3 linked regions of the Homo sapiens genome follow. The protein of the gene in region 1 purifies or fractionates together with the protein of each later gene. This does not show direct contact. Each region holds a gene or a part of one and is shown in the gene's direction. Other genes may lie near its edges. The genes, in order: SLC25A38, AGK and MARCHF5.

The links.
Region 2: the proteins of SLC25A38 (region 1) and AGK purify together in Homo sapiens (affinity purification with mass spectrometry; one large-scale study listed by BioGRID and IntAct). This does not show direct contact.
Region 3: the proteins of SLC25A38 (region 1) and MARCHF5 purify together in Homo sapiens (affinity purification with western blotting; one study listed by BioGRID). This does not show direct contact.

Annotation. Positions count from the first base shown.
Region 1 is NC_000003.12:39,395,466-39,397,866, forward strand, and holds the end of SLC25A38 (mitochondrial glycine transporter), read left to right. Parts: intron 1-932; coding exon 933-1,055; 3' UTR 1,056-1,886; downstream 1,887-2,401. UniProt on the Homo sapiens protein: Mitochondrial glycine transporter that imports glycine into the mitochondrial matrix.
Region 2 is NC_000007.14:141,641,910-141,645,569, forward strand, and holds part of AGK (acylglycerol kinase, mitochondrial isoform 1 precursor), read left to right. Parts: intron 1-3,660. UniProt on the Homo sapiens protein: Lipid kinase that can phosphorylate both monoacylglycerol and diacylglycerol to form lysophosphatidic acid (LPA) and phosphatidic acid (PA), respectively. Does not phosphorylate sphingosine. Phosphorylates ceramide.
Region 3 is NC_000010.11:92,297,651-92,301,310, forward strand, and holds part of MARCHF5 (E3 ubiquitin-protein ligase MARCHF5), read left to right. Parts: intron 1-3,660. UniProt on the Homo sapiens protein: Mitochondrial E3 ubiquitin-protein ligase that plays a crucial role in the control of mitochondrial morphology by acting as a positive regulator of mitochondrial fission and as an important regulator of immune response.

The DNA of each region.
Region 1 (2,401 bases):
GGCTCTTTTAGAACATGTATTGTTATCACAAAGCAGATATTCTTGCTAAAGGTAAATGTGAATTTGTGTTCTTATCTCTATATCTAAAATCAGAAAGTTTTAAAATAATATTTTCTTTATGTGAAATCGCAAATCAACCCAGATTATGAGGGAGGAGGAAGGGGCATTTTTTCTTTAATTAATATGAAGAGAGGGCCACCAAGAGCATACAGTGAATTACAAAAAGATAAGACAAATGACAAGAAGGCACCTTTTCCTTCAGCCTGGATCCAGGATCCAGGGTTTGGCAAGCAGGTTTCTGCCTGGATTTCATCTGCTACTTGGGGCTTAGTGCTTCTGTACAGTATACAAACTGCACAAGTACACAGCAACCCTGCATAAAGACTTTCAGCTAAGAAATCCCCCTAGATAGAGCAGCCTAAAAAGGTAAGCCCAGCAACTACAAAAAAAAAAAATGGTTTTTGGCCAAGCGCGGTAGCTCACGCCTGTAATCCCAGCACTTTGGGAGGTTGAGGTGGGCAGATCACAAGGTCAGGAGTTCGAGACCAGCCTGGCCAATATGGTGAAAACCCCATCTCAACTAAAAATACGAAAATTAGCCGGGCGTGGTGGTGGGCGCCTGTAGTCCCACCTACTCGGAAGGCTGAGGCAGGAGAATCGCTTGAACCCAGGAGGCAGAGGTTGCAGTGAGCCGAGATCGCGCCACTGCACTATAGCCTGGGCGACAGAGCCAGACTCTGCCTCGGAAAAAAAAAAAATTTTTTTTAAGTTCTTTGGTTGTCTCCTTGGACCCATTATTCTTACTTTGGGCATAAAGTTTAGAAACTAAGTCTTAAACATGGGATAACAGAGACCCTCACTGTGGTACCAAGTGGATAATTAATTGTATTGCTACTTTGCTTCCAGAGTTCTGACATTTATTTTCACCATAGGACTATGGACTACGTGGCTTCTTCCAAGGTGGCATCCCCCGAGCCCTCCGCAGAACTCTAATGGCAGCAATGGCGTGGACGGTGTATGAAGAGATGATGGCCAAGATGGGCCTGAAGTCCTGACCAAGAGAGGACTGGGAACGGGTGAAATCTGTTGCCCTGCTTGGTTTCTGCCAAGGGCTGCTGCTTCTTACTATTCTGCAGTAAGATGAAGTCCTACCTGGAAAACCAGGCAGAAATTGTGTTGCCTTTGCCTTCAGTAATCCCCTTAAGGAGAAAATATATGGACCTGATTTCAGCCTTCAGAATCTCCAAAAGAGGAGTCATCAATTCATAGAGCACACTAGGGTGTTAGGAGAGAGCTTTGCATACTCTGAGAGGCTACTTGGAAAGGCATTTTCCCAGGAGAGCTCTGTCAGGTGGCTGCGCTTCAGCCCCACCCCTACACCACAGGGTCTCCTTGGGTATGTTCTTGGGCAAGCAATCACAAAGCCAGAGAAGCTGTAAGCTGCCTGCCGGGCCTGAGGAGCTCCAACCAGGGAAGACTGGATGTGAGGAGAGGAGTCACTGTCACCAGGTCACAGACTGACTGAGGTGATGGTAGGATGAGGAGGAACAGATGCCCTTCTTTAATTGGTTCTCAGTTAACTTCTCAGAGGCTCTGGAGAACGGGACAGTGGCTTTCTAGCCTCTGAATGTTCCAAATAAAATTTTTTGGTCTTGGCCCCTGTACTGTTTTACCTCTAAATTCTGGCATTTTTTTTTCCCTGCAATTAAAGTGCTGTACTTTATTTATTGAACTTTATCATTGAAAGCTGTTTGGAAAACCTAAAAGATGTTGTCACACTTCTGTTTTCTTTACCTGTGCCTTATAAAAATGGACCAAACCCTTTTCTAAAATAAAATAGTTCTAGGGTGGCTGGTTATTGACCTATGTAGGTCCCTAAAACCTAATTTCTGTTCAAAAAAGCAGCTTTACTGAATGATGCAACCATCACTATAAATCAGTTTAAGAACATTTTTATTCCCCAAACAGATCTCTCATGCCTTTTGTAATTAATCCTCATTCTCAGCCCCAGGCCACCACTGATAGGCTTTCTGTCTTCATAAATTTGCCTTTTCTGGATACTTCATATAAATGCAGTCTGTAGGCCGGGTGCGGTGGCTCAAGCCTGTAACCCCAGCACTTTGGGAGACCGAAGCGGGTGGATCACATGAGGTCAGGAGTTCAAGAGCAGCCTGGCCAACATGGTGAAACCCCGTCTCTACTAAAAATACAAACATTAGCTGGGCGTGGTGGCATGTGCCTGTAATCCCAGCTACTTGGGAGGCTGAGGCACGAGAATCACTTGAACCGAGGAGGCAGAGGTTAAAGTGAGCTGAAATCATGCCACTGCACTCCAGCCTGGGTGACAGAGTGAGACCCTGTCTCAAAAAACAAAAAAACAAAGTGACTATACCATTTTCCA
Region 2 (3,660 bases), on another chromosome or scaffold:
TAAGTGTGCTTTTTTATTAGAAAAGCATTTGGTACCTAAGAAAAGTGACAATAGCTATAGTCCTCTCCCACTAATTCAGTTATTTTTATTTTTACCCTGTGGAGATAGAGAGGGCAGTGTCAGGAGAAAGAGGATGTGGTGTGCCTTTAAGGAATAACAGCAATGAGGAGAAGCTGCCACCTGCAGGAGTGGCATAAATGCTTCTGGGGCTCTGATTACATGTTCTGCTCATTGCTTAATTGGCATTCAGAGAACTTAGGGCAAGAGGGCTTTAGAAATGAAAATTAGCTATTCCCATTTGTCACTGGAAAAAAATTGTGGAACTTTTAGTTGAGTAAATATCCACGATTTTTGTGACTGTACTAAATATGTCAAATTAGATCCTCAGGAGAAAAATACCCACACACATACATCTGTATCTATATCTACATATTATTTATTTAGGCCCAATCTATAGGTATGCACTATCCCATACGGTAGCTATTAGCCACATGTGGCTAGTTAAATTTAAATTAATTAGAATTAAATAAAATTCAAAACTTAGTTCCTAAGTCACACTCACCACATTTCAAGTGCTCAACAGCCATATGTAGCTAGTAGCCATCATACTGGAAAGCACAGGTATACAGCCTGTCCGTCAGTGCAGAAGGTTCTGTTGGGTGGTGCTACTATAGACAACACACCCAAAAGTATTGAAATAAAGCAGGCATTGGCAAACTGGTCTGCCACCTGTTTTTATATAGCCCAGAAGCCAAGAATCTTCTAATTTTAAATGATGCAAAGAAAATCAAAAGAATAATTTTTGTGAACAGAAAAATACGTAAAGTTCAAGTTTCAGTATCCATAAATAAAGTTTTATTGGAGCACAGCCATATTCATTCACAAATATATTGTCTGTGGCTGCCTTTGTGCTACAGGGGAGAGCTGAGTAGTTGTGACAGATTGTATGGCCCAAAGCCTAAAATGTTTATTATCTGGTCACTTACAGAAAAAGTTTACTGACCCTAGTATAGAGAAAACCTTGGTAATTTATATCAATGAGAATGCCAATAGGAAAGTAATTGTTAACTGTGGACTAATTACATTCAGCTTGTATGCAAATTAGTCTGTTCACAGTTGTCTAGGCCAGTCTGAAAATTAGCAGATGGAGTTGGAATGTCGTGAAAAGTTTGATTCCAATATTAATAGAGTGATAAGTTTGATTCTAATATTAATGTTCAGAGTATTGAGATGTTTTCTAACTATGAAAATAATACATGTCCATTGCAAAACATTTGGAAAACATAGCTCCCTTCACCCTATAAAAAAAATTCTAGTTTGATTAAAGAACTAAATGTAAAATAATAAAATCATTAAAGTAGTAGGGTAAATGGCACACGTTTATACCTATGTAACAAGGCTGCGCCTCCTGTGTATGTATCCCGGAACTTAAAATAGAAGTTTGAAGTTAAAAAAAAGTATTAGGGTAAAATCTAAGTGATTATCAGTATAAAATTAAGGAGGACAAGGCCTCTCTAAGCATGACATTTAAGGCAAAAATCATATTGATGCATTTGTCTTTTTATTTAAAAAGACATTCTAAACAAACTTTTAAATGACATATTGGGAAAAATATTAGCATGTGATAGACCAGGAATTCACTTTCCTTTTAACAAGCTCTTAGGATAAAGCAATGAGAAATGGGCAAAGGACTAATATAAAAAGTGAGCAAGGGGTAAGAATAGAAAATTCATAAAAGAAATAAGCATATGAAAAAATAGCTTATATTTGCTGATTATTTACTACATGTGAGGCACCTGTCCTAAGAATTTTACATAATATTATGTAATCCTTATAGGTAGATATCTTTATCTGCATTTTGTAGGTAAGGAGACAGAGTGATTTCAGCAAAGAAATGCAAATTAAAATAGTAAGATTGAATTGTCATGACTAAAAAGCATGTTATAGATTAAAAGCTTAGTGGTGGTGTGTGTTTCTGATGGGAATATAGATTGGAACATCCTGTCTCAGCAATTTGGCATAGTATACATAAAGTGTCTAAAATATATGCATACCTTCTGCCCTATTAACTGTATTTCTAGGAATTTATCCTACTGGAATAACCTGATGAATATATAATGTAGGCAGTCCTTTTTTACATAATGGAAATCTGAAAAACACTGGTGAAAGTGGATATGTGAATGCTAAAAAAAAAAAAATAGATTCTGTTCCAGAGGAATTTAAAAGAGAAAGATAAAATGTCTAATTATACATCTCCTTTATACCAAGTCTTTAATAATATGTATTCCGAGTATTTTATTCATGTTCTTTACCATTGTTCTTTTCTCTGATGACTGAGTACCACTGAATGGATTGAGTTCAGTGAGTATGTGAGTGCGCTCAAGATTAGCCACACTCACAATGCCAAGTGCTTTTTATCTTTGTGCCTATTTAAAAGTATACGATACTGTGCCGCTTATCACTAGTAGCAGCAAATTCATTTGTTTCGTTTTTGCACAGTTCTTTATAAAAATAAAAGCAAATGCAATACAATAAAGGCAGTGTAGCTGCCGTGTAATAGCTCAAAATGTTCACTTATTAAAAGCAGCACATTCAGTGTATGAAAGAAGCTGTAGGAGTATAGAATGTGTGAAAATTAGGATCTCTTATACAACTATGCTCACTGTATAATAGTAAAATATTTGCAATGAACTAATCAGACTGAATAAATTTTGGTACATTTATTAAAAGTCATATCTATTTTATATATGTATTATTTTCTATCTATTGACATGGGAAAAATAGGTGAAAAGATTTGCAACATAGTTCCATTTTTCTTTAAAAAGGAAATACCCCCACTTATAAGTGAGTTTTGTGAATGATGGAGGTAAAGCTCCAATTTTATGTTCTTTCCAAATAGAAAGCCAGTTGTCCAAGCGCCATTTATTGAAATCTCCATTTTCCCCCATTGATCTTCAATAAACCTCTGCCATACATCATGTCTATATACATGTAAATGTTTCTAGTCTCTTTCTTCTATTGTTGTTCCATTTTCTCATATTTATACTAATACTCTGCTTCTCTTATTATAGTTTTATAATAAGTTCTATGTTTTTCTCTTTTTACACAGTCTCTTGGCTATTCTTAGCTCATTTGAGTTCTATAAATATTTTAGAATGTTTATTTTATTAAATTCCACATAAAAATGTTATAATATTGATCTCACTGCATTGTACCCATAGATCAATTTGGAGAGAAATGACATTTCTACAATATTGACTCCTCTAGCATATGAACGGGGTATATCTCTTCATTTATTTAGGTCTTCAATGTCTTTCAATGAAGTTTTATAGTTTTCTCTGGAATATCCTGTCTTTTGCTGGATATATTCCCAGTTATCTTAATTTTTATGCTATTCTAAATAATATCTATTAAAATTTCATTTTCTACCTGATTTAGTAGATGGACATATAATTGATTTTTATATCAATGCTGAATCAGCAACCTAATTAAATTATTATTAATTATTCTAACTTTCTTTCAATGAATTCTTTCAAATTTTCTACAGATTTAGTCATGGCCAATGCAAATAGTGCAAGGTTTGTTTTCTCTCTTCAAATACTTATCCTTACAATCCTTCATTTTACTTAGAGCACTGGATAGGACCTCAGTACATGGTTA
Region 3 (3,660 bases), on another chromosome or scaffold:
CCAGCTAATTTTTTGTATTTTTAGTAGAGACAGGGTTTCACTGTGTTGGCCAGACTGGTTCAAACTCCCGACCTCGTGATCCACCTGCCTCGGCCTCCCAAAGTGCTGGGATTTCAGGCATGAGCCGCCACACCTGGCCTTTTTTCTTTTTTAATCCAGTCTCGTTTATGACATTTAGATTCTTATTTTCTCTTTATTATTTTTCCTGATAATTTGACTTTCATTCCCCTTTCTTGTCATTAGCTCTACTGAAAGTGTACTGAAGGGCTGGGTGCAGTGGCTCACACCTGTAATCCCAGCACTTTGGAAGACCGAGGCAGGCCAATCACTTGAGCTCAGGAGTTCAAGACCAGCCTGGCCAACATGGCGAATCCCCATCTCTACAAAAAATACAAACATTAGTAGGGCATAGTGGCACATACCTGTAATCTCAGCTACTCGGGAGGCTGAGGCACAAGAATCGCTTGAACCTGGGAGGCAAAGGTTGCAGTGAGCTGAGATCGTGCCACTGCACGATCTCTCTCTCTATATATGTATATGTATACTAAAGGTCACCAATAATTTCTTAGTAAATATAATGACATTTTCTTCAGGACTTTTTATCCTTCAGAATCACGTTACCTTTTTCTTCCTTCAATTTCTATGTATGGTTCAATTCTCAGCATTTACTATTTTGAGAAAGTACACTTACTCACTCTCTTTCCTGTTTATTCAAACAACTCCCAGATCTGTGTCTTTATTCCTGACCTCTTTTCCTCATTTCCTTTAGCACCTAATTTCTACCTGCCCAGTGGACATTTCCATTTGTGTGTATACAGTATTGCCAATCAATCTAAAACTAAGCTACTTATCTTGACTTCTCAATTTTTGGTCTTTGATATTACCAGTCTTCTTGTCCACCAGCTATAAAACATAAATTTTATTTGTTTGTTTGTTTTTGAGACAGGGTCTGGCTCTGTCGCCCAGGCTGGAGTGCAGTGGCCCATCTCGGCTTACTGCAACCTCCATCCCCCACCCTCCGGCTCAAAATATCCTCCCACCTCACCCTCCTGACTAGCTGGGACTGCATGTCCAGCTAATTTTTGTATTTTTAGTAGAGACGGGCTTTCGCCGTGTTGCCCAGGCTGGTCTCAAACTCCTGAGCTTAAGTGACCCTCCTGCCTCAGCCTCCCATAGTGCTGGGATTACAGGCATGAAGCTAGCCAAAACATAAGTTTTTCTTGTTTTCTTTGTTTTTGTTAAAGAAACAGGGTCTTGCACTCCCAGGCTCAAGCCTCCCAAGTAGCTAGGAGCACAGGGCAAGCCAGCATGCCCAGCTAATTTTTTTTAAACTTTTTTTTTTTTGGTGGGGAGGGGGATAGAGACGGGTCTCACTATGTTGCCCAGGCTGTCTCAAACTCCTGTTCTCCACCAATCCTACCTTGGCCTCCCAAAGTGTTAGGACTACAGGTATGAGCTACCTTGCCCGGCCTATTTACATTTTTTTGCTGCCTTCTTTCCTTCCAGATCCACTTGTTCATCACATATTGTTGATTTTCCTTTTTCTAGCTTCAATTTTTCACTTGGTCCAGTTTGGCCTACAGAGTGGCACTAGAATTAGCGAAGGCACAATTATAATCATGCGATTTCTATACTTAAAAATCTGCCAGTCTCTGTGTCACGTAAAAGGATAAAACGTAAACTTTCAACGGGGTAACGTGCTTTGATCTGTTACTATAATCCAGCCCCAACCTACCTTAACCATCCTTTCCTGCACTCCCCTTCATTGACCCCTGAACATATCCTGCTCTTTCATTTCTTTATTTTTGCTTTAGGTGCCTTCCTCCCTCCTAACACCTGGTGAAGTCTTACCCATATTGAATTCAGCTGAAATACCACAGTGACACCTTGCACAGCTCCCCCAAACAGAGTTAATAACTCCTTTCTGTGTTTCAATAGAACCTTGTTGCATTTATTATAGTGTATCACATTGTACTGTAAATTTTTTAATATACTTGTCCCATGTCTCAGAGCTTCCCACACACACACATATTCATCTGGAAGTTCACTGAGAACAGAAACTGCCTGTATTCCCTATCCTATTTTCCCACAAGGGCCTTAGTGCATAGGAGACCCTCTTTTGTATCATGATGTCTTTCTTTTCATTCTTTGTGACATATCAGTGCTTAGAATAATCATGCAGAAGCACCATTTTTTTAAATTGCCTCATTTGCTCAAAACTTGTATTTTCTTACTGCTTATTGAGATTAAGTTCAGGGCTGGGCACTTTGGGAGGCTGAGGCAGGAGGATCGCCTGATCTCAGGAGTTTGAGACCCACCTGAGCAAAATACTAAGACCCCCGTCTCTACAAAAAATAAAAAAGTAACCAGTGTAGTGGTGCATGCCTATACTCCCAGCTACTCAGGAGGCTGAAGCGGGAGGTTCACTTGAGCCTGGGAGATTGAGGCTGCAGCAAGCCATTATCACATCACTGCACTCCAGCCTGGGTATAACAAAGCAAGACCTTGTCTCAAAAAAAAAAAAGAAAAGAAAAGAAAAAAAGATCTGGCCGGGCTCAGTGGCTCATGCCTGTAATCCCAGCACTTTGGGAGGCCGAGAGGAGCAGATTGCTTGAGCCCAAGAGTTTGAGACCAGCGTGGGCAACATGGAGAAACCCTGTGTCTACTTAAAAAAAAAAAGAAAGAAAGAAAAAATAGCTGGGTGTGGTGGCCCACACCTGTAATTGCAGCTGCTGGGGAGGCTGAGATGGGAGGATCACCTGAGCCCAGGTTATGGAGGTTGCAGTGAGCTGAGATTGCACCATGCCACTGCACTCCAGCCTGGGCCACAGAGCAAGACCCTGTCTCAAAAAAAAAAAAGAGATCATATTCTTTAGCCTGTCCTTCAGGACACTCACCATTATTCACAGACCATTTATTATGCTCCCTATTATGTTTAAGATATGCCGTACATAGCTGGCACCAACTGCCTTTTTAAAGCCTTTCTTCTCTTTATGAATAAGTGTATAAGTACCCAAGTCTTTTGCCCAAGCCAAACTGGCTTGCGCACTTTCTTCCAAACATAAGGTGGTTTTTGTTTTTGGGTTTTGTTTGGCATCTTTTCTTTCAAAGCTCTACCCATTTTTCAAGACCTAGTTAGGTTCTGCCTTGTTTATAATGCTCTTCTGACCATGTCTGCAGAAATATTTTTCTCTTCTTCTCCAGACTCATGTAGCAGTTCATCTTCAGTGCCTCCTAATTCTTTTTTTTTTTTTTTTTTGAGGCAGAGCCTTCACTCTGTTGCCCAAGCTGGAATGCAGTAGTGCAACCTTGGCTCACTGCAGCCTCCGGGTTCAAGCGATTCTCATGCTTCAGCCTCCCAAGTAGCTGGGATTACAGGTGTGTGCCATCATGCTCAGCTAATTTTTTGTATTTTTAGTAGAAACAGGGTTTCACTGTTTTGGCCAGGCTGGCCTTGAACTCCTGGTCTCAAGCAGTCCTCCCCACTCAGCCTCCCAAAGTGCTGGGATTACAGGCATGAGCCACCACGCCTGACCTGCCTCCTAATTCTTTACATGCCGTAGTTCACATAGATGACAATATTTATATGGCCCATTGGAGTAAACTGAAAGGGATTTGCCTCTCTGGAGGAAGCACATTATGGCTGCTTTAAAGTACCTT